Regions from separate parts of the Homo sapiens genome. Here all the other regions are linked to region 1. The links come from fine-mapping of genetic effects on gene expression. A gene starts in region 1. Each other region holds a variant in brackets. All regions are shown on one strand. Distances are between the middles of the regions. Region 1 holds the start of CDHR3 (cadherin related family member 3). Region 2 has its middle 16 kb from the start of ATXN7L1. Region 3 has its middle 36 kb from the start of ATXN7L1. Region 4 overlaps CDHR3 (cadherin related family member 3). Region 5 has its middle 24 kb from the start of ATXN7L1.

Evidence for each region. PIP is the estimated chance that this variant, and not a neighbour inherited with it, causes the effect. A credible set is the group of variants that fine-mapping cannot tell apart.
Region 2: its variant is the best candidate, but not a certain one, in a credible set for the expression of CDHR3 in esophagus mucosa (GTEx, PIP 0.82).
Region 3: its variant is the best candidate, but not a certain one, in a credible set for the expression of CDHR3 in whole blood (TOPMed, PIP 0.89).
Region 4: its variant is the best candidate, but not a certain one, in a credible set for the expression of CDHR3 in whole blood (TOPMed, PIP 0.60).
Region 5: its variant is the best candidate, but not a certain one, in a credible set for the expression of CDHR3 in putamen (GTEx, PIP 0.54).

What each region holds. Positions count from the first base shown.
Region 1 is chr7:105,961,096-105,965,642 of GRCh38, forward strand. CDHR3 (cadherin related family member 3) reads left to right here and starts at 2,169. Exons shown (of 19, transcript NM_152750.5): 1 at 2,169-2,269. The coding sequence starts at 2,224. RefSeq lists enhancers at 722-1,673, 1,674-2,625 and a silencer at 2,208-2,502.
Region 2 is chr7:105,890,388-105,894,934 of GRCh38, forward strand. No RefSeq gene overlaps it. Among named protein-coding and RNA genes, the nearest start is that of ATXN7L1, 16 kb to the left of the region's middle. The variant A/G (reference allele first, on the strand shown) is at 2,619.
Region 3 is chr7:105,910,323-105,914,869 of GRCh38, forward strand. No RefSeq gene overlaps it. Among named protein-coding and RNA genes, the nearest start is that of ATXN7L1, 36 kb to the left of the region's middle. The variant C/T (reference allele first, on the strand shown) is at 2,157.
Region 4 is chr7:106,019,525-106,024,071 of GRCh38, forward strand. CDHR3 (cadherin related family member 3) reads left to right here. Exons shown (of 19, transcript NM_152750.5): 13 at 849-1,020; 14 at 2,674-2,924. Among named protein-coding and RNA genes, the nearest start is that of CDHR3, 59 kb to the left of the region's middle. The variant T/C (reference allele first, on the strand shown) is at 2,720.
Region 5 is chr7:105,897,947-105,902,493 of GRCh38, forward strand. No RefSeq gene overlaps it. Among named protein-coding and RNA genes, the nearest start is that of ATXN7L1, 24 kb to the left of the region's middle. The variant G/C (reference allele first, on the strand shown) is at 2,382.

The DNA.
Region 1 (4,547 bases):
TGAGAATTGGTAGCTTGGCAACTGTTGTTTATTTTTCTTTTTATTTGGCCAATATATATTGAGTACCTACTATGTTTCAGCCCTTGCCAGGGTCCTATTAGGAAAAAATAGTGTGGCACATGCCTGTAATATCAACACTTCGGGAGGCGGAGGTGGGAGAATCGCTTGAGCCCAGAAGTTTGAGACCAGTTTGGGCAACATAGGGAGACGTCCTCTCTAAAAAAAAAATTTTTTTAATTAGCCTGGTGTGGTGGTGCACGCCTGTGGTCCCAGCTGCTCCAGAGGCTGAGGTGGGCGGATTGCTTGAGTCCAGGAGATTGAGGCTGTAATGAGCTATGATCGCGCTGCTACACTCTAGCCTGGGAGACAGAGTGACAGTGAGATCCTGTCTCCAAAAAAAAAAAAAAAAAAAAAAAAAGTATTTTTAAAACACATAGTATGGGCCAGTTTCTTTCACTTCTTTCTCTTGTGTATCGCTTGCGATGATACTGTGTAGCAGGTATTATTTTCCCTGATTTACAGAAGTGAGTGGAACTGAGATTCTGAAAGGTTAGGTAAATTGCCAAAGGTGACACAGCAACACTCCCTTTTGTTTTGTTGTTGTTGTTACTATCTATGTGCTTCGAACAGAGACCTATCGACTAGCTTTCCTAATCTTACTACCTTTCCTTCATGCTTTACACAAGAAAAGTCAACTTTTCTTAAGGGAAAGGTTCTTGTTATTTTGAGCAGGAAAGTAAATGACCAAAATTGTACTTTGGGGAAATTAACCTAAGTTTCTGTAGGATGTGCTGCGGGCCAGAGCCCAGGCCAGAGGCAAGGACCTTAAGCCAGGGCAGTAGCAACAAGCATGGGAAGGGGCCCGGCAGCAGGCCCTGGAGGCTGGAAAGGGCTTGTCAAATGTTTGGATGTGGTGGAAGGGAAGGGCAGCCTTGCCACCCTAGGTTTGGGACGCAGGGGACACAGGGGACACTGGCAGGTGGCGCAGCCTGGGTCAAACCCCTCACTCTCTGAGCCCTTCTTGCTTGGCACCCTTGCAAATAAATGCCTTCCTTTCTATTGCTGCAAAAACCTCGGTGTGGATATCCGGTTTTACTGCACAGGGTGAGTGGACCCAGTTTGGTTCCATAACACTGTCTCCCTCTATCCCTCGTTGGTGACCTCCGTGTAGCAGGTGCTAAAAGCTGGTTCACCTGTGGGGCATGTGTAGTTTTCAGAGCGCCTGTGGGGTCTCGTCCAGACTGGGAGGCTCTGACTCAACTCCCCACCTTCTTCACTGCATTCCTGCCCCCAGCCTTGGGCTGCTGGCCTCTCCTCCCCTAGCTGGCAGAGGAATGGGAGAGGTGGTCCAAGCCCAGCTGCCTTCCACTGTGCCCACTACTTCTCTTACTGCACCATGTCAAGGGGACAGGCCACTGCTCGGCCGTTCTCTCTCTGCTCTGCTGTTGCTCCTTCTCAGTGGAGACTAGACCCCAGCCCGCGTTTGTTCACATGCCACATCTTGTGCCCTGGCACAGGGCTGTGTGGAACAGAAAGGCATCGTGAAGGGCAAGACCTGCATCACTCCCCAGTGGGCAGAAGCCTCACCACTCCAGTAACCTTCCTTCACAGCCTTCTTCGAGGGCTGGAGGGGCGGTGGTGGGGGGTGGAGTCAGAGGGCAGTCTTCCACCTCAAGTCAGCCTCGAGGAGGGGTCTGCTCCCAGCTCTCAGATCTTGTCTTTAGAACGAGTGCCAGTTAATTCCCAAGTCTGAATCCTACTCATTGATTCAGGACAGCAGAAAAACTCCCACTTCCCACCCCTGTTTCTGGAAATGACCACAAGCCTGGCTACAGGGCGACCGAGACCATCATGGGTGGACTACGCACGTCCAGCTCTTAGTGTGGTCTCCGTGTCTCGGTTTTCTCTTTTGACTTCTCTTTTGGAGCTCTTGGTTGAGACACTTGGTGAGTGTGGACTTTTAAGGTAAACTCTGAGCTGACCAGGACTGGCTGGTTGGTCTCTTGGGTGCTATGCAGTCACAGAAGCAGGTAATCAAAGAACAAACAGTCCTGTGGTGTTTGGAGTCTCCCTTGGCTACCGCCAAAGCCTCTGTTTGATTTCTTGCATGGCAACAAAACCAGGAGGGGAAGCTGAGTGGCTTCTGGAATAAACTTTGGGTGTGAGACGGGATTCAGGCTGTGGCTAATGTGCTGGAAGCACGCACAGTTGTGACCATCAAGTATGCAGGAAGCAATCATTCTCCTGGCTCTCCTGGGTGCCATGTCAGGTAGGAACTCAATTTTGCTTTGGAACCTTGCTTGCCTACTTGGTCTGCATAATACCATTGAATGACAATGTCCCCCAGAAAGGAAATTGCCCCTGGGAGGCTTGTTCAATTGAGGGCTTAGCTGCAGTAATGAATGAGGTGATGCCGCTCCAGGGAGCCCTGGGGGACCAGGTAGGAGCCCTGGAAAAGAGAGATGCTTAAAGAGCCTAATCTAATCTATGTTGGTGTAGACTTCACTTTCCCTCTTGGGTTAACTGGCCTGCATTTGGTAGTCCTCCTGAGATTTAAGGTTGGGAAAATAGTGTTCATAGCAGAGCTTTGTGAGTATGTCAAGTGAGTCTTTGTGGAGATTCTGGCCCTTTTCTGGAGGCTCGTAGGGCAACTTGAGGTTGACAAGTGATCCTTTGAGGAAAGTGAGTTACTGAGGGGGTGTCTTCCTCTTGAGCAAAGAAAACACCTTCTGATAGAAGGGTCAAAGACTCAAGCTAGTGATCATTTTACTCTCTCTTCCTCATTCAAGGGCATCAAGAATCTTAGATGATCTTTTTAATGTCAGCTTGGATTATTGAAATTGAGATTTTAAAATTAAATTTTATTTCTGAATAGGTAGTATATGCATAATATATTGAATTTATGTTAAATTTGCAAATTAATTTAGGGATAATTTACATCTTTGACAAGTTATGTAGTAAAATACTTAGAAGAGTGTCTGAGTACATAGTAAATGCTTAGTAAATGTTAGTGAGTATTATTTATGATCTTGAGTCTTCCTAATCCAAGAACAGGGTTCTAGATACTTGTTTGAGTCTTCATTTGTTTTTCTTAGGAGTATTTTGAGGTTTCCTTCATATAGATTTGGTACATTCTTATTATGGTTATTTCTAGTTCTTTTACTTTTTCTTTTTTTACATTTGTAAATGGAATCTCTTCTTCCCTACATCTTTCAACTGATTATTGTATGATGTATGGAAATCTGTTAACAAATTATCTTATTATTTGGCATGGTTTTTCAGGTGATTCTCATGAATTTTCCACGTTTGAAAAAATGAACATTTATATTCTTCTTCTCCTATGTCTATAGCTCCTATTTTTTTCTTATCTAACTGCCAGGCCTGGACATTCTGACCATTATTAAATAATGACAAGAGTGTAAATTCCTGTCTTGTTTCCCATTAAGCATGATGTTAACTTTTGGTGTGAGAGAGAAATGTTTTATATGTTAAGGAGGTGGCTTTTATTCTTATTAATATAAGAATATTACAGTATTTATTTCTAAATAAAAATATAATAAAACTAAATGTAAGAATATTCAAGTACTTATTTCTAAATAAAAATGGATTTTTAAATCAAACGCTTTTTCAAGATCTATGAAAATGACCATTTAATTTTCCTCTTCGATCTGCTAATAAGATAAATAAATAACTGGGTTTCCTAATATTGAGCCCTCTTCTATCTTGGGCTTTTCAACTCAGCAGAGGGCAGGATGACCTGTGAATGTGAAGTGGGCCATGAGCAGTTCAGACTGTCACTTGAAGTAAACATTTCAGATTTCCCCCAGAAATATGGGCTTTTAGGGCCACAATCATTTGAGTCGAGGTGACTTTTATTGTCACTGGGGAAAGAGTGAGGTTAGGAAGAACCCAATTTCTTATACTGAACACTATCATTTGGAATTTTATCAGAAGTGTGAAAGGGATAGATCACAAAGGTTTGCAAGAAATACTTGAGATTTCTTATTTAAAACACACAATAGAATCCCTTAGGTCAAATCTTGTTTTTGGAAGGGCTACTGTGACACAAACTGTTTCTTTTGTGAGTCTGAGAACCTGGTCATTACCCTCACACTCCAACACCTGGGCTACAGAGGCTTCTAGCGGGGCAGCCACATCAGCACCCCTTCAGGCTGTTGGAAGCAGGCATCACTATAATAATCTCAAATAAAGTAACATACAGTAAAAAATTAGCAGAGCATGAAGACGGGTGCCTATAATCCTAGCTACTCAGGAGGCTGAGGCAGGAGAATCGCTTGAACCCAGGAGGCGGAGGTTGCAGTGAGCTGAGATTGCGCCATTGCACTCCAGCCTGGGCGACAGAGTGAGACTCCATCTCAAAATAAGTAAATAAATAAAGTAACATAGAGTATCCTCTTTCCTTTCATGTGTTCTAACTCCTATGCTTCCTTCAAGGCCCAACTCAAGCCCCACCCCCCCCCATGGAGTCTTCCTGGATTGACCTAGCTCCTGGGGAGTGCTCCTGCTGTTGCACCCTGGAGCTCCTC
Region 2 (4,547 bases), 71 kb before region 1:
TGGGCATTGCACATAGGTGAGATAATTTTTGTTTCCATTTCCGTGGTTCATTATATCCTTCAGAAGGGGTTTAGGCACTTTAGAAATTCACAGATAAGTCACTGCAAGTAAGAACTAGCGATGAGCATTCTTTTCCTCAACCACAAACCACACGTGCCTCTATTTGTATAATAGAAGGCTATAATGGGAGTCAAAGGGACTAGTTTGTTGAGAATGTTGCTGAATATATCATGTTGTCCCATTGATGTGCTTTATAATTGCACTGATGTGTTTTCCAGAAAACTGTGGCACCAACCCAGGATTCTAATACATAGTCAAGAAAATGCTACAGCCTGTTGTAGCTCCCCCAAAGCAAGCAGCTCTCCATGGAATGGCGTCCCCAGGCTTCACACCATGGTCAGGAGGGCCTGCCCCACAAGTGCACATCCTGCTCTAGCTAGGACCATTGTGCCTGAGTTTGCATCTGGGTTCCTATGCTGGTGTGCTGGCTTGAACCACATGTGAATCTCAACCCCTTCTTTGTCTTTGAAGGTAGATACATCAAGAGAACTCCATCATGGGTGGGGTGTCTTGGGGATGAGCACCAAGGAGTGAATGTTTGGTTTTGATAAGGAATTATGAAAGAGCAATAAATATGCTAACTGTAGAATAACCTGCTCCAACAGCAGAGAACCAGGTTTCTGATCCAACTCTGGGGTCCAGACCAGGGGCTTGAGAATAGTTTTTATTATGAAATGACCCTGTTAGGGGTTTAATTGGCCTCCTCCCAAGATGCTGTACTTTTATGTGAAGTGCATCAGGGGTCCCTTCTATTTGGAGAAGATAAACTAATTTCCTTCTGTCTATCCAGTGCCATTTGGTCTCCCTCTCCCATCCTCCTATTCAGTAGCCAAAGAACTAATTTGGCTACAATACAACCCTCTTCAGAGTGCTGGGGAGAGAGAGAAATCAAATATGAGCAAAGCCCACACCCTCTGTAGTGGGCAAAGCTCATTTGTAAATAATTTTAGTCTTGTTGCTCATTCAGTAATTCTGTATCCCTCCCAATAGGTATTGGCAGCGTGTCAGATGGCCACCAGTTATGAAGAGCTTCCCCATTTCCGAAACCCCCTAGCTTCTCAAGGGTCTGTGAACTGGGGAAACCAGTTATGCTAAAGGAGTCATAGACCCATTCTTTTCTCTTTTTGAGGGCTGGGGTGGGGAATGGTAGAGTGGAACAACATCTTCTATTCATCTACTCATTCAAGAAGCATTTACAGAGCTCTCCTCTGTGGCAGGCCCTACCCGAGAGGTGGAAAAGAGAAATCTGGACACATCGTATGTCTCAGTTTTCCAAAGGCATTTCACAAAATGAGTAATAACCTCTGTTGGGCTGAATGGTGGCCCCTGAAGATATCAGGTCCTAATACTTGACACCTATGAATGTTACCTTATTTGGTAAAGGCTTTGTAGAGGTGATTAAGTTAAGGATCTTGAGTTGGAGAGATTATTCTGGATTAGCCAGTTAGGCCCTAAATGCCATTAAATGTATCCTTGTATAAGAAGGAGACAGAGAAATAATGACACACGCAGAGGAATAGGCGATGTAAAGATGGAGCAGGAAAGGTTTAAAGATGCTAGCGATGGAGATTGGAGTGAGGCAGCTACACACTGAGGAACACCGCAGCCAGCCGGAACTGGAAGAGGTGGGGAACAGATTCTCCCTGCAGAGCTGCTGGAGGAGTGAGGTCTTTTGGCACCTTGATTTTGGCTCACTGAAACAGGTATGGGACTTCTGGCCTCCAGAACTATGAGAGAATAAATTTGTGTTTATTGACTCCTCCAAACTTGAAGAAAATGTGTTATACAGTAGTCCCAGGACCATCCTTGCAGGTAAAATGGAGACGTGGGTCTAGAAGACAGTGCAAGTAGGTGTCAAGGTATTTGACCAACTCTGTCTGTTATTCAGTCACATGGGAAATACTGACTGACTACTCAAATCTACAGTGCTTCAGGCACTGGAGCAGTGGATAAGGCAGACAATATCCCCACTGACACTGGGGTAGGGGGAAGGAGCAGCTAATAAATAGGTAAATGAAAAATATGAACAAGGTAACTTTAGCAATTGACAAGTGCCTTAAAGAAAACAAAACAGGATAATGTGGAATGGCGGACGGGGATCCTTTTAGACTAGGTAGTAGGAAGCCCTTTCTGGTGAGAAAGCCTTGGAGCTGAGTCCTGAAGATCATGAAGGAGCTACCATCTGGAGGGAGAGCATTCCAAGTGGAATGAGTGGCAAACACAGAGGCTTTGAGATGGGAATGAGCTTCCTGTGTGTGAGAAGCAAACAGAAGGCCCAGACCCCTCTAAGTCAACAGGGATATCATTGCTCAGGGAGGGCTGTGGGATTCTGTCCTAGGCTCTGCCCTGTACAATTTTCATTTTTTATAATTAAATTGGAAGAAAACGTAATGCATCATAAATGTGCAGGCAATATAAAGCTTGTAGGATGTGTACTGGGTTAGAGTCAGGGGTTGAGTTTCAAAATACCTTGACAGGCATGAACAAAACAATGAACTTCAGCAGGGACAAACTGTGAAGTCCTGACTTGGGTCTGAGAACAAGTATTTGCCTAAGTC[A/G]AGAATGGGAACCTGATTTGAGTGCGGTACTGGTGTGAAGTCCCTGAAGCTGAGTGTCAGCACGTAGCATGATGTGACTGCCATAAAAAAGTCAAGCACTTTTACAACTTTTTTAAACTGTGGGGTACAACTCCAGGGAGGAAGTAGCCAGGGGTCTGTTTGTGGAGGACTGAGTGGGTATCACATTTTATGGGGTCACAGAAACAGCTCATTATTTGTTTATTCATTCAATTAATAAATGCTTAATGAGCACATATTATGTGCCTGGCACTGACTAGGCTTTGGGGTAAATAACAGTGAATAGGATGGAAACATTTGATGACTTCATAGAGCTGACATTCTAGGGAGAAGATAGACATGGCAGATTTAATTATACACATATCTTTTTCACTGTATTAGATTTTTTCAGATTATAAAATTATAGTAATAAAATAGCAATATCAAATATTACTGAAATACATAACATAGGAAAAAATATGCCCTGTCAATTCATCCTCCCTCCCCAGACGTAGCCACTGTCAACCAGTTTGTGCACGTTTTTGTAACTTTTAAAAATATACATGCAATGTATTTTTAAAGCATAAAAGGGGAATCATACACGTCTGAATTTTGTTTTTTAGCTTCATATATCTGGGATATCCTCTCACATGAACACAAGGAAATCTACCTCATTCTTTTTAATGTCTGAATAATATTTCATGCTATGGATGCATTATAGTTTATTTGACTAATATCTTGTTGAAATGCATACCGTTTCCATTTTCACTATTATAAGGATTTGCAAACAATTGTTCTACATACCTTTTTATATAGCCTGTGGTCATATTTCTAAAGCACAGATTCAGAGAAGTGGGAATACTGGCTGGGCGTGGTGGCTCACGCTGGCTCACTATGACATCTGTAATCCCAGCACTTCGGGAGGGTGAGATGGGCGGATCACCTGAGATCAGGAGTTTGAGACCAGCCTAGCCAACAGAGCAAAACCCCGTCTCTACTAAAAGTATAAAAATCAGCTGGGCGTGGTGGTGTGTACCTGTAATCCCAGCTACTCAGGAGGCAGAGGCAGGAGAATTGCTTGGACTTAGGAGGTGGAGGTTGCGGTGGGCCGAGATCAAGCCACTGCACTCCAGCCTGGGCCACAGAGCGAGACTCTGTCTTGCAAAAAAAAGGAAAAAAAAAGAAGTGGAAATACTGTATCAAAAGGTATGGAAAATTTAAATGATAGATACCACGTTTCTTACCATTCAGGATGTACCTCAGTGAGAGTGCAGATGAGATCACATGTTTTCTTGCAGCCTCAACATTCCAGGCAGTGTAGACAGTGCAAAGGTCCTGTGGTAGAGGGAACCTGGTGTATCAGCAGGACTGAACAGATTCCCTAGGGGCAGAGAGCAGAGAGCCAGGTGGGGAGTGAAGAGGGAGGCATGGGCCAGACCTTGCAGGGCCTTGCGATTCATCTTGAGGGTTTTGGTCCTTATCCCAAGAGAAAGGAGAAGCCAAAGGGAATTTCATGCAAGCTGACATGATGAGATAGGCATTTTGAACAGGTACCTCTGGCTGCTGTACAGGCAATGGACTGGGAAGATGGAAAAGTAGATGTGAAGAGCACCTGGGGTAGCTATTTTGGGAGTCCAGGTGAGAGATGATGGTAGCCTGGACTCGGGTGGAGGCTGGCCATGGAGAGGAGTGGCTACATTTAACCGTTTTTTAGGCCACAGAACTGATGGAAGCTGATGCCTAAGTGGGCTTAGGTGGGGACTGAGGAAGAAGGCAGTGTCCTGGAAGAAAGATGGAATGGGAGTTATCATTGGGATGATGAGATGTCAAAGGAGCAGGTGATGATTGGCCAAAAAAGTGAAGATCCAGAGGAGATACCTGCTTTAGAGAGCAGCCTTTGCACCCTTGTCTCTCATGCCCGCAGCTCTATCA
Region 3 (4,547 bases), 51 kb before region 1:
TATGACTGCACTACCAGGGAGGCTGCCCAGGGCTGGAGATTGCTCTGCTCCAGAGGTGCTTGGTTTGCAGTGTGGGCGGACTCAACCTGAGCGAAAGCCACACAAAAGCGCCTTGAGCTGGAGCCCCATGCTAGTGTTGGTTCCACCAGTGGTTCTTTTTTTTTTTTTTTCTGAGATGGAGTTTCTCTCTTTTTGCCCAGGCTGGCGTGCAATGGTGTGATCTCGGCTTACCACAACCTCCACCTCCCAGGTTCAAGTGATTCTCCTGCCTCAGCCTCCCGAGTAGCTGGGATTATAGGCATGTGCCACCACGCCTAGCTAATTTTGTATTTTTATTAGAGACGGGGTTTTACCATGTTGGCCAGGCTGGTCTCGAACTCCCGACCTCAGGTGATCCTCCTGGCTTGACCTCCCAAAGTGCTGGGATTACAGGCATGAGCCACCGTGACCAGCCAACACCAGTGGTTCTTAAACTTCAGCCTGGGTCTGAGTCACCTGGAGGGCTATGAAAACACAGAGTGCTGGGCCCCATCCCCAGAGTTTGTGCCTTCAGTAGGTCTGTGGGGGGCCTAAGGATTTGCGTTTGTAACAAGTCCCCAAGTAATACGGGTGCTGCTGGTTGGGAGATCCCACTTTCGAATCGCAGGTTCACTCTACAGTCCCATTGTTAACTTATAAAACTCTTCCTCTCTAGTTCTTCTTTTTGTAAAGGTGTGTCCTGAGGAACCTCAGATTTGAAAGAAGAGTGAATGGAAGTCAAATGTGGAAACCACTCAAATGTCCATCAACTGATGAATGAATAAACAAATCATGGTATATCCATACAAGGAATATTATTCACCCATAAAAAGGAATGAAGTCTTAATACACCTACAACTGGATGAACATTGAAAACATTATGCTATCCATTCTGCTTCAGGTTGGAAAAAAAAATACGATCCTTACCTAAAGAAGCCATCTACAAAAGGCCACATATTGTGTGATTATATCATATGACCAGAATACGCAAATTCATAGAGACAGAAAGCAGATTAATGGTTGCCAGGAACTGGGGGAAGGGGAGGAATGAGGAGTGACTAACTGTGTTTTTCCCATTGTGATTAAAAAAAAAGTTCTGGAACCAGATAGTGGTGATGGTTGCACAACATTGTGAATGTACTCAGTACCACTGAATTGTACACTTTAAAATGGTCAGTTTTGGCTGGGCACGGTGGCTCACGCCTGTAATCCCAGCACTTTGGGAGGCTGAGGCAGGGGAATCACCTGAGTTCAGGAGTTCAAGACCAGCCTGGCCAACATGGTGAAACCCCGTCTCTACTAAAAATACAAAAATTAGCTGGGCGTGGTGGCACACGCCTGTAGTCCCAGCTACTCAGGAGGCTGAGGCAGGAGAATCACTTGAATCTGGAAGGCGGAGATTGCAGTGAGCTGAGATTGTGTCACTGTACTCCAGCCTGGGCAACAAAGTGAGACTCTGTCTCAAAAAAAAGAAAAGAAAAGTTAGTTTTATGTAATGCCTATTTTATCACAATAAAAAATTAAAAGAGTGAATGGAGTGTTGTTTTAACTCCCATCATGGGACCAGTTGAAAGGTTTATAGGATAGAGGTTGGAAATGCAAAGGGCCTAAACCAGTGGTTTTCAGCCCTGATTGAGCCATCCTATCCTTGGAGAGTTTTATGTCTTATCCTTGTCTTAGCTGCGCCCGAGACCAATTAAATCAAAATCTCTGGAGGTAAGGCCCAGGCATCAAAAAAATTTTCAATACATCCCCAGATGATTCTAACATACCATCAGTATTTCAAACAGTGGCCTGAAACCTCAAGGGTCAAATGAGTTAATGACTTTGGTGCAAACTGACTTGACCCATATCATAAACAATGTGCCTTCATCTTCTCCCATACTTGCTTGGGAGGGGATGTAGAGTAGAATGAGGAGGCTTTCAGAATCAGATCTGCCCAGGATTTGAAAACTGGCTCCATTACCAACTAGCTGTGTCTCCTTGGGCAAACCACATAACCCTTGTGGGCATGTTTTCTCCTAAGTGAAGAACACCATTTCAGAGGGTTTTTGTGAGGCACACATGAAGCAGCCAATTTCCCAGCTTTACCAGTGTCAGACCCTGTTTAGTCATCATTCCTTTCTTTCCATCTCATT[C/T]TAGACCGGAAAGGAGAAACAGTCTAAACTGCATGAAAGTCCTGGTACTGCTGTATCTCGTACTATAAGTTCAGTTTTCTCCCTTCACCTGAGGGTAAGTTGAAGAATAACTTCATAAGCCAGGGAGAGATACGTTTGGATCAGGAGTTAGTGATAACAGGTGAGCCCAATAATAATCCTTTTTGCGCTCATGCTCAGATGTTTTTTATGCACCAAGCTTTATAATGATGTAGATATACTCTAAGACAAAAACAGATAAAACTCACCTATAATTTTGAATCATAAAATAGTTTGGATTTTTCCATGTTTCTGGGTAGTCCTTACTCTTTGATAATATAAGGAATATATTTTTATTCAACTACAGTTAAGGCATAGATATAATTTTATACTCTGCATTTTCTTTATCTTCAGCATTCGTTATGTTTCTATAGTTCATTATTGACATTTTAATGACTACATAGTATTTGATTGAATAGCCTTACTGTAATTTATTTTGATATTCCTCTATTAAGCCTTTTGACTGCTAAGTTTTCAATATTAGAAATTGTACATAGTAAAAATATTTCTGCACGTAACTTTTAATTTCCTTTGACTTCTTTTCTTTTTTTTTTTTTTTTGAGATGGAGTCTCGCCCTGATGCCCAGGCTGGAGCGCAATACCACAATCTCGTCTCACTGCAACCTCCGCCTCCCGGGTTCAAGCGATTCTCCTATCTCAGCCTCCCGAGTAGCTAGGATTACAGGCGCCTGCCACCATGCCCAGCTAATTTTTCTATTTTTAGTAAAGATGGGGTTTCACCGTGTCGGTCAGGCTGGTCTCAAATTCCTGACCTCGTGATCCACCCACCTTGGCCTCCCAAAGTACTGGGATTACAGGCATGAGCCACCACACCCGGCCTTGACTTATTTTCTTAAAATATATTTCCTTTAAGTTACTGGATCAAGGGGTGTGAACATTTTAAGGTTCTTGAGTGCAGTATCAAATTGCTCTGGTAAAGGATTGTACCAATTTACACTGCTACCAGCAGGGTGTGGGTGTACATTTTCAACAACTTGCCAGCACCGAATTTCATCATTTAAAAAGGGTTTACAGATTGTACATAATTTAATTTAATATAAACTAATAAATTACTGTGTCCAACTTTTGAGCATGCTTAAAATTTTTTCCCCATTTCTTTTTTGGTGGCATCCCTACTATTTCGTAAACTGCTTGAGGGCAGTTTACAAACCTTGCACATTGTAGAAAATCAATAATTGCTTTTTGAAACAATGAATAATTCAGGGAATCCCTGTTCCCAATAATTCTTCAGTTTTGATAATAGCAGTGGGTTTTGGGTTGTTTTGGTTTCAAGATAAACTAAATTACACTTTATTTCACTGATGTTGGCAGCCCCAGAGGACTCTGTTTGCAGGAAAAAAAATGTATGAAGATTTTCCTAGGTGGGAAGTAGACCTCTCCCACACAACGAGAAGAGCAGCTAAATCATTGCTCTTTTCTCCCAGTCTCTCCCTGCACTCCCATCTGATTTCCTGTCTGCTCCTGAAAAGCCAGCTCAATATGAACTAAGGAAAAGCTATTTGTAGTGCTCATGGGAGGACAAAGAACACAAATAGGCTCTTCCTAAACTATTGAGCTTAGCTTTCACTCTTTCCAGCAGGAAAAGGGTCATGCATGTCCAGGTGATACTACTTGTACTTTGGTACCCATTGATTGGGACAGTGTGTGCCGATGAAAAGGTGCTGTGAATTCAGTAATGCTTTTTAAATACGTATTTTAATTTCAATAATGTCTACATAAATTTCAAAAACAGCAATTAAAAAATATGCTTGAGACCAATTTATCCGGCTACACCTATTTGGTGCATATTTGCATTCTTAGATTCCTTAAATGTCCTCTGCACAAAGGTTAGGAAACTGTGCCCTGACAATAAAGCAGTATCTTATTAGAACTAAGAGATTAACCAGTAAAGAGGACTAGAGAAGTCGTTGTTAACTGATACTTTATTAGTATTTAATACAGTAACCTGCCTCTGCTAGAAGTAAGGACTCCTCCTCAACTTTTAAAGATAGCTAATTTTATAACTCTGCTTCCTACCTGTTCACCTTTTTCTCATTGGTGACAGCAACAAACAATTAATGGCTTTCTTAAATGTCTTGCTGTCTGAAATAAGATCTTTTTCCAATTAAAAAGTAACAAAGGCTGCATCTCTCCTCTGTTTCCTTCTTTGGCTGTAACATCTTGACATCTCTCTCTCTGTCTCCTGTTTTATCCAAGACCGAGTTACATGAAAACAAAATGGGTCATAGGCTTCCATTGTGGGGGCGGGGCGGGGGGGCAGATTATTTGTGACTTTGGTTTTAAAGAAAATTTATGCTGGTGGTTTGCAGAAAG
Region 4 (4,547 bases), 58 kb after region 1:
ATAAGCTTTTTAAAAGGGGTGATGAACTAAACGATCACACAAGTCCCTTTCAGGGCTGACATTCTATGATTCTGTGCTGGCAGGCATCCCAGGCTATATTCCAATTTACCAGGCATAAAAGACAGCGATGAAAGAGAATAGGCTGGCCCCTGCTTATGGCAGGTTAGCTCTAGGGCTTAGTACAGTGCTAATAGCCCAGGTTACAGATGAGATCCCAGCTTAACCAGGCCTGCTTGTTCTGTCCCAGTGAGTCTTAGCCCTGGCTGCATATTAGAATCAGCTAGGGAACATCAATGAGGGCCCTGACCCCCACCCTCCAATCTATTGGTTCTGAAGTGGGCCCAAGAAAGCAGAGCCAGGGCTGAGAACCATTTCTGCATATGCCAGAGTTAAAGAAGTTCCATTTACAAGGGGCAGCAGGCAAGGTGGCACATGGAGACACCGTAAATCCACACCTTCCTGGAAAAACAACTCGGTGTCATCTGCAGGTGAGCCTATGTGTCCAGGTGCATGTGTGTGTGTGTGGGGGGGGGGCAAGGTATACATACACTAAATGTGCACACACACATGCATATGGTGTAGAAGTTAATAGCATAGGATTTGGAGTAGGACAGACCTGAATTCAAATCCCAACTCTGCCATTCACTAGCTGAATGATCTTAGATCAATTACCTAGTCTCTCTAAACTTCCATTTTCTCACCATAAAATGGGAATAATCATGTTAGCTATCTCATGTGAGTTTAAATGAGCTAATTTATGAAAAGTGCTTAGCCTGAAAACTGCCTACACACAGTAAGCACTCAATGAGTTTTAGCTATTGAGAATGACCACCTTCTTGCTACTCTAGGTTACTGTGAACATCCTTGAAGAAAATGATGAAAAGCCAATTTGTACTCCAAACTCTTATTTCCTGGCCCTCCCAGTGGATCTGAAAGTTGGCACAAATATTCAGAATTTCAAGCTGACATGTACCGACCTTGATTCCAGCCCCAGATCTTTCCGTTATTCCATTGGCCCAGGTATAGTACTTGGTGTCGACAATCCTGGCCCTGTCTCTGAGGACCCTGAAGTTGTCTAGGGTAGGGGTCTGTGCTCACACACTGATCTGGGCAAAGTGGGATGGGAGTTGGGAGGGCATTATTTTTTTGAGATAGGGTCTTGCTATGCTGCCTAGGCTAGTTTTGAACCCCTGGGCTCAAGTAATCCTCCTGCTCAGCCTCCCAAGTAGCTGAGACTACAGGCATGCCTCATTGCACCCAGCTTGCTGGGGAAGTATTTGAATGAGGAAAGCAGAGACACAAAATCTAGCAGCCCCTATGCTTCCTGGCACTCCTCTCAGTTTCCCCTTCTTGTCTTACTCCTCCCAGACCCCATACGTGACTGCCCAAAGGCCCAAGAAAAGGGTGAACCCCCCAATTCCTGACTACAGTATGAGTCATAAAGCATATTAGTGTTGTTAGAAAAAATGCAGTCCAACTTTTCGACCACCTCTTTTCCTGAAAGCTGGTAGTGGGGGCAGGGAATCCCAGTCCTCTCTCTGGATAATAATAGATTAAATAGATTAAGTGCGTTTTGAAACGTGTCCTCAGGAATTCTCTTCTGCTCCATTCATCTTCTGTCTTTAAAAATATACCATCGTAGGGAAAAAAGAGCACCCCTCAATGGAAATTAGACCAAAATAGCTCATCTAATGAAGTGCTGGGGCCAGAGATTTAAACCCAAACAAGCAGAACAATTCCACGTGAGAGAGTAAAAATCCATCCCTGCTGCCTGCTGTGCCCTTGGCCGAGCAGGAACTTGAACAGTAGGAAGCCTCTCGAGCTGGCTGTGTCACAAAACCCAGGGGCAGAAACTGCCTCGAGACTGCAGTTGCCGAAGATGGAAACAATCCATACTGAGAGCCCTAAGGCCTTTATGGAGCATTTTGCTGTTAAGGGAGCAAAAATTGCATCATCTCCTGCTCCATTTACTGGTGTTCAGTCGGTAATGAGTCTGGAGCCAGTGGAGGAATGAGCGGGCATGTGCTTGGGCTGGCAGCCTCTCTGCCCCAGGCTCCCTGAGCTGAGCCATGAGCCCCAGCAGAGCTGTGTGTGTGTTTGGGGGTGTGATGGGGTGGGTTCAGGAGGACCTGGGACTGCAATTCCCGCAAAGCCAGGAGGCACCTTCCTTTGGAGGACTCCAGGGACAGCCATAACCAGTGTGACCCACTGGGTCCTGTGAAAAGCATGCAGTGAACTTGGCCTATGGCTAGGGATGTGACCTATTCTACCCTCTTGAAACCCACTCATTTGTTTGAGTGTGAATTACACGTGTTGTTACCAAATAATTGCCGGATGAGAAATCAGAAGGGGCTGCACCAGGGTTACAAAGTCTCTGCTTAATACTCAGCAAGATGGCACCTAGGCTAAGGGTGTTGTACTATTGTCCTTTTCTACTCAGCCTTGTTTGCAGCCACACTGGTTGTGAGCAAGAGTTTCTTTGTACTAATGCCATCTCTGGTGCAGTTAAAGCCTGTAGCATATAACTAATCCAGCTCTGGTGTATCAGAGACACAGTCTACACTTGAGGTGTGGACATTTGAGAAAAAGATTGAATGCAGTTTTCTTCTAAACCTTTATTTCTTACTCTCTTTTCTTCCTTTTACCAACACCCCTGCATCAAATCTCATTTAGGTAACGTCAACAATCATTTCACCTTCTCTCCCAATGCTGGTTCCAA[T/C]GTCACACGCCTGCTGCTTACATCTCGCTTTGACTATGCTGGTGGGTTTGATAAGATCTGGGACTACAAGCTACTTGTCTACGTAACTGATGACAACTTGATGTCTGACAGGAAGAAAGCGGAGGCTCTTGTTGAGACAGGAACAGTGACACTGAGTATTAAAGTCATTCCCCACCCAACCACTATCATCACCACGACCCCCAGGGTAAGGGCTTTAGGACCTGGAATCCCCAGGCACATTCCCTTGTGAGTTATGTTGATGGACTTCTTTCCCCGGCCTGGAGGTATGTGGGGTGGACTGAAGAGTTGAGGTATTAGGATGTTGCCAAAAATGGCAACCATGGGCTGGACTGGAGTAGCTGCAGGGTGGCAAAAATCTGGTGAGACCTCAGACTCATAACCGCTAACTCAACCACTAACATTTCCTGTTCTGGTAGAGAAGAGTGTGTTGTTTGTGCAGAGACTTGTGAGAGATCAGACCTCAACCATCTGTGTGGCTTGTGGCACAGGAGCTGATTTCCATGGGCATGCTGCCAGTTGCTACCTTCACAACCCCTCTCTGCTTGTTCAGAAGAGTCTTTGCAAGTCAATATCCATGAAATTAGGTTGCTTGCTTACTGCTGGGTGCTCTTTCCCACATCTTTTGAAGAATCACCAGGTACCAATCTGTACCCTACACCCCACCTCCGCTCCAAAAAAATTCATCCAATCTACAAATATCGATTTAATGCCTATAGTGTGCCAGTCACTTTAGCAAACAAGCCAAAAATGATCCCTGCTCTCAGAAAGCTTATTGTATAGGCGAGTGATTCTCTAAGTGCGGTCCCTAGACCATCAGAATCAGCACCACCTGGAAACTGGTTGGAAATGCAAATTCTCAGGCCCAGCCTAGATTATTAAAGTTATAGGTTACCCAACCATGATCATCACCATGACCTCCAGGGAAGGATGCTGGAACCTGGAATCCCCAACTCTATCCCCTAACCTAATGAATCCGAAGCTCTGGAGGTGGGGTCCAGTGAGCTGTGTTTTCAATCAGCCTTTCAGGGAATTCTAATGTGCATTAAAGTCTGAGAGCCACTGATCTAGAGGGGGAGATAGATTACAAACAAGTATTCAAATTGACAAAGTAAATACAGACTGTGGGAAAGGGTAGGAAGAAAATGACCAGGTGCTATCACAGAATTGGCCTGGAGAAGGAAGGGAGAGCCTTGAATCTGACAACAGGATTATCTTCCCTGCCCCTTGGAGGAACTGGCTTGCATCTATGCTGACTCATCTGTCCCCTTTCTTCCTCCTCCTCTTCCTCCTCCTCCTCCTCCTCCTAGTAGAAGCTGCACCCCTGGTCAGCAGCCTGATACCTGCAGCATGCCAGAAGGAAGATAATCAGAACCTTAGAGAACCCACTATGGAGGTGGCCAGCTTCTTCTCAGAGTCTTGCCAGGAGCTGGTTCATGCTTCTCTCTCCCATGCTCGAGTCAATATGACCCCAGTGAATGGAGGCATATGGCAACCCTAGGACTTTCCTTGTGGGAGGAGCTGGTAGGCTCTCCTGAGTGAGGAGTTCCCACCTTTCTTGGGCTCAGAGCATGACCTGATTGTGACATCTCCAATCCTGAAACCTCCGTAACTTGTTTGTTATCTGTCTCCAGCTCTAGGAAGCAGATGCTGAACTTGAGGCTTTGCTGTGATATCAGCCCACTGCTCTGGCAGTGGCAGCTTGTAGTTGAGAAAACACTGAAAAGCCTACAAGGCATTTAAAAAAACAACTTTCGTGGCTTATGCTGTCTCGGTGAGAGACAATGGCTATATTCGTCCCTGGGTTATG
Region 5 (4,547 bases), 63 kb before region 1:
ATGTTCATGAACTTCTCAGAACTCTTGAGGCATGGTAAAATTATTTTCCCTATGTGGTTTTTTTTTTTAAGTCTTTTAGCTGACGGTAGTTGTGTAGCATCTTTCTGACCAGCAAGAAAATGCCTTTCTAATCTCTAGAAGAGAAATTGTTTGCATAAGGTGTTCTCCCACATTTATGTCTTTAATTTCAGACGAGAGGCACTGATCTTTTCATAAGGACTTTCCTGCTACACCTCCCACAAATGGTGTGTGTCTTGTGAACTCTATAGGTGTGGCATTGATAATGGTGTTTGATAGTGTTTGGGCTGTTCAGAATCTGCCCTTTATACTGAAATGGTATGTCTAGCTTTGTTTCCAGGATTACAGAAACTTCTTTGGTCTATTTCCGTGACTGCATTCAGTGGAGACACATTACTTTCTGCTTTTCAGAGCCTGAGACCACCTTCCAGGACAATGGAGGCATATGGTGGCATTTCTAGTTGGAGTTGGCGCTGATTGAGCCTTTGCCATTACTTGGCAAAATTAATTTGGTTGTGGTTGGTTGTTTGACCCGGGGGTGGCATTTTTCTGTGGGCAGAATAGTAGAGCTGAGTTGCATATAGTTGTTTTTAAGGTCTTTGGATAATAACCATTTTAACCAAATGTGTAGAGGCTTTGAAATTGCCATATGTGCAACTTAAGTTATCATTTCACATACAAGTAGTTCATTAAATATATTAATTGAGTTTATTGAACATATGCTTTTAAAAATAGACTTTGTATTTTAGAGCAGATTTAGGTTCACAGCAAAACTGAGCAGATAGTACAGAGATTTCTCATATACCCACCCACTTGCATAGACTCCCAACTAACAACATCCCCCACCAGAGGTGGTACATTTGTTAGAGTTGATGAAGCAACACTGACACCTCATTATCCCCCAAAGTCCACCATTTATATTAGGGTTCACTCTTGGTGTTGTACATTCAGTGGGTTTGGACACATTTTTAATGACATGTATCCATCATTATAGTATCATACAGAGTAGTTTACTGCCCTACAAATAGTTTGTGTTCCACCTAGGCATTCCTCCCACCGTTCTAATCCCTGGCAACCTTTTTTTTGTTTTGTTTTACCTTCTCCATGGTTTTGCCGTTTCCAAAATGTTGCAAAGTTGAAATTAACAGTATGTAGTCTTTTCCAATTGGCTTTTTCACTTAGCAATATACACTTAAGTTTCCTCAATGTCTTTCTGTAGCTTGAGACAGCTCATTTCTTTTTAGAGCTGAATAATATTCCATTGTCTGGATGTACGGCAGTTTACTTATCTGTTCACCTACTGAAGGATGTCTTGGTTGCTTCCAAGTTTGGGCAGTTATGAATAAAGCTGCTATAAACATCCACATCCAGGTTTTCGTACGGACATAAGTTTTCAACTCTTTTGGGTAAACACCAAGGAGCATGCTTGTTGGATCGTATGGTAAGAATCTATTTATTTTTGTGACAAATTGCCAATCTGTCTTCCAAAGTGACTGTGCCATTTTGCATCTGCACCGCAGTCAGTGAGAGTTCCTGTTGCTCCACATCCTTACCAGCATTTGCCATTGTTGGTGTTTTGGATTTTGGCTTTTCTAATAGGTGTGTAGGGGTATCTCATTGTTTTAATTTGCATTTCCCTAATGACATATGCTATGGAGCATTTTTATATGCTTTTTTGCTAGCTATATATCTATATATAGCTATATAAATATATATTTTTTATTTCAATAGTTTTTGGGGTTCAGTTGGTTTTTGGTTAAATGGATGAATTGTATAGTGGTGAAATCTGAGATTTTATTTTACCTGTCACCCAAGTAGTGTACCCAATATGTAGTTTTTCATTGCTCTCCCACCTCCCCCTTACCTCCTTCTGAGTCTCCAGAGTTCATTACACCACTGTGTATACCTTTGCATAGCCATAGCTTAGCCCCTAATTATAAGTGAGAACATATGGTATTTGGCTTTCCATTTCTGAGTTACTTCACTTAGAATAAATGGCCTCCAGCTGCATCCAAGTTGCTGCAAAAGACATTATTTTATTCTTTTTTATGGCTGAGTAGTGTTCCATGGGGTGCACCTGTGGATAGCCTTTCCTGAACACTTCAGCGGGGCTGCCTCTCCACAGGCAGCGTGCCCTCCAGTTGCAGGCTTGCGCGAGGGGTAGAGTCACAATCCATCTCAACATGGAACATCAGCCTTCCTGCAGATGAAAAGAGGTGTCTGTCTGATCTGAATAGCTGGGACACTGGGTCAGGAGTGTGACTAGGAGGTGGATCACTTTCAGGGGAGCTGAGGTGTCCGTCCCTTCCTTCTGAGAAGACCTCCGTGCATTTCACTGAGAGCTCCCTCAGCTGCCTCTATTA[G/C]GGCTGGGACCTCTACCCATCATTGGGTATTGCATTTACCCACTTTGCTTTAGCCACCAATTTTTTTTTTTTTTTTTTGAGACAGGGCCTCACTCTCTCACCCAGGCTGGAGTGCAGTGGTACAGTCTCAGCTCATTGCAACCTCTGCCTCCCAAGTAGCTGGGATTACAGGTCTGTACCACCATGCCTGGCTAATTTTTGTACTTTTGGTAGAGACAGGGTTTCACCATGTTGCCTAGGTTGGTCTCGAACTTCTGAGCTCAAGCAATCTGCATATCTCAGCCTCCCAAAGTGCTGGGATTACAGGCGTGAGCCATTGTGCCCGGACACCACAATCGGTTTTTACCTGTGGACACCTCCCCTTCTGGCTGGAAGCTCAACCTGTTCAACCCAGTAAATAAAGTGCTAGGGAAAAAATTAAAAAATGCATACTACTGGAGAACAAGATAAGCTTTGAGAGACCTCTGCCATTCTGACCCCACAGGAGACAGTGAGCACATTGCTGCTACAACCAGCAGCTGAGAAAGCCACCATACAAAGACTCTCTATAACCAAGGAACTCACACAGAGTCTTCACCCCTGAAAGCACCAGGAGCAGAATTAGGTGACAATAAACTGTGTCTTTTTTTATAAGGTGTCTATTCAGATCTTTTGCCAGTTTTTCAACTGGGTTGTTCGTATTCTTATTGTTGAGTTTTTAAGAGTTCTCTGTATGTGTTAGGTAAAATTCTTCATCAGATGTCTTTTGTAAATATTTTCTCCCAGTCTGTAGCTTGTCTTCTCATTCTCTCGAATATACACTCCTCTGACGGTGCTCTGTTAGATGTTTTATGGGCACAGAAATTATATTTAGCACGGAATTTCTCCCTTTCAAGTTGCTCTCATTCTTATTGGCAAATACCTATTTCCTGGGTGCAGAAAGATCCCCATTGCTGTTTCCTATTGGCTACTCATGAAGCTGTTAAGTGGATCGTGGGAGCAGTAAACACTCCAGATAATTTGTTTATTTGGGAAACTTGCTTGGATAGTGTTTTATGTCAGAATTCTATGACAAACTGTGCTTTGGTGACTTATGTATTCAGACTCTGACTTATCTGGGAAGACAAAATGTCATTAGCATTCTAAGAAATATTAATGACTGCTATTTATATACCCCATCCACACCACTTTCACTGGCATCTGGCATTGATGATTGTGAAGTATTGATGACTTTTCCAAATAAGATGGAATATGGCAATTTGGTAAAGAGCAAACATTTTTATTTTATTTATCTGGGGTTAATTTTTTGTATTTTGAAATATTCAAAAATACTTAGTAGAAGGGATCATTTCTTTTTTCTTTTCTTTTTTTTTTTTTTTTTTTTTTGAGATGGAGTCTCCAGGCTGGAGTGCAGTGGCATGATCTCGGCTCACTGCAAGCTCCGCCTCCCGGGTTCATGCCATTCTCCTGCCTCAGCCTCCCAAGTAGCTGGGACTACAGGCGCCTGCCATCACGCCCAGCTAATTTTTTGTATTTTTTAGTAGAGATGGGATTTCACCGTGTTAGCCAGGATGGTCTTGATCTCCTGATCTTGCGATCCACCCGCCTTGGCCTCCCAGAGTGCTGGGATTACAGGCATGAGCCACCACACCCGGCCACAGAAGGGATCATTTCTAAATAGCATAGAATCACAGGGAGTACACCTCATGTGACTTCACGTTTAGAGTCAGCATTTGCTCATAATGAATTACATATCAGTAAATGAACATGACATGCTTCAACTTCAATAATATTAAACAAAACTCTTTCAGTGTGCTTATTCATAGATGAAAAACAGGGCCTGAAAACCCAGTGTGACTTGGGTGTCATATATCTTCAGTTTGGATGCACTATATCAGTGCTAATCAATAAAGGCCAGGAATGATTTTGGAGTATAATGTCCAGCCTTAAATCTTAAATGAAAGTGAAATTCAAACACTTAGCCCAGCAGTAGAAGAACAAACACTAGTGAGACAGTATAATTTGTTAAGACGAACATGGGCCAGATCCATTATCTAATATATGTGTCCTCGACAGTATGTACCGTCTCGAAGAGGAAGAAATAGTCAAGGTACCCAAATGAGCCATTCCTCAGAGACAGCCAAAGAGCTCTGAGAGAGAGCAAGTGTGGGCAAGAAAGAGGGGACA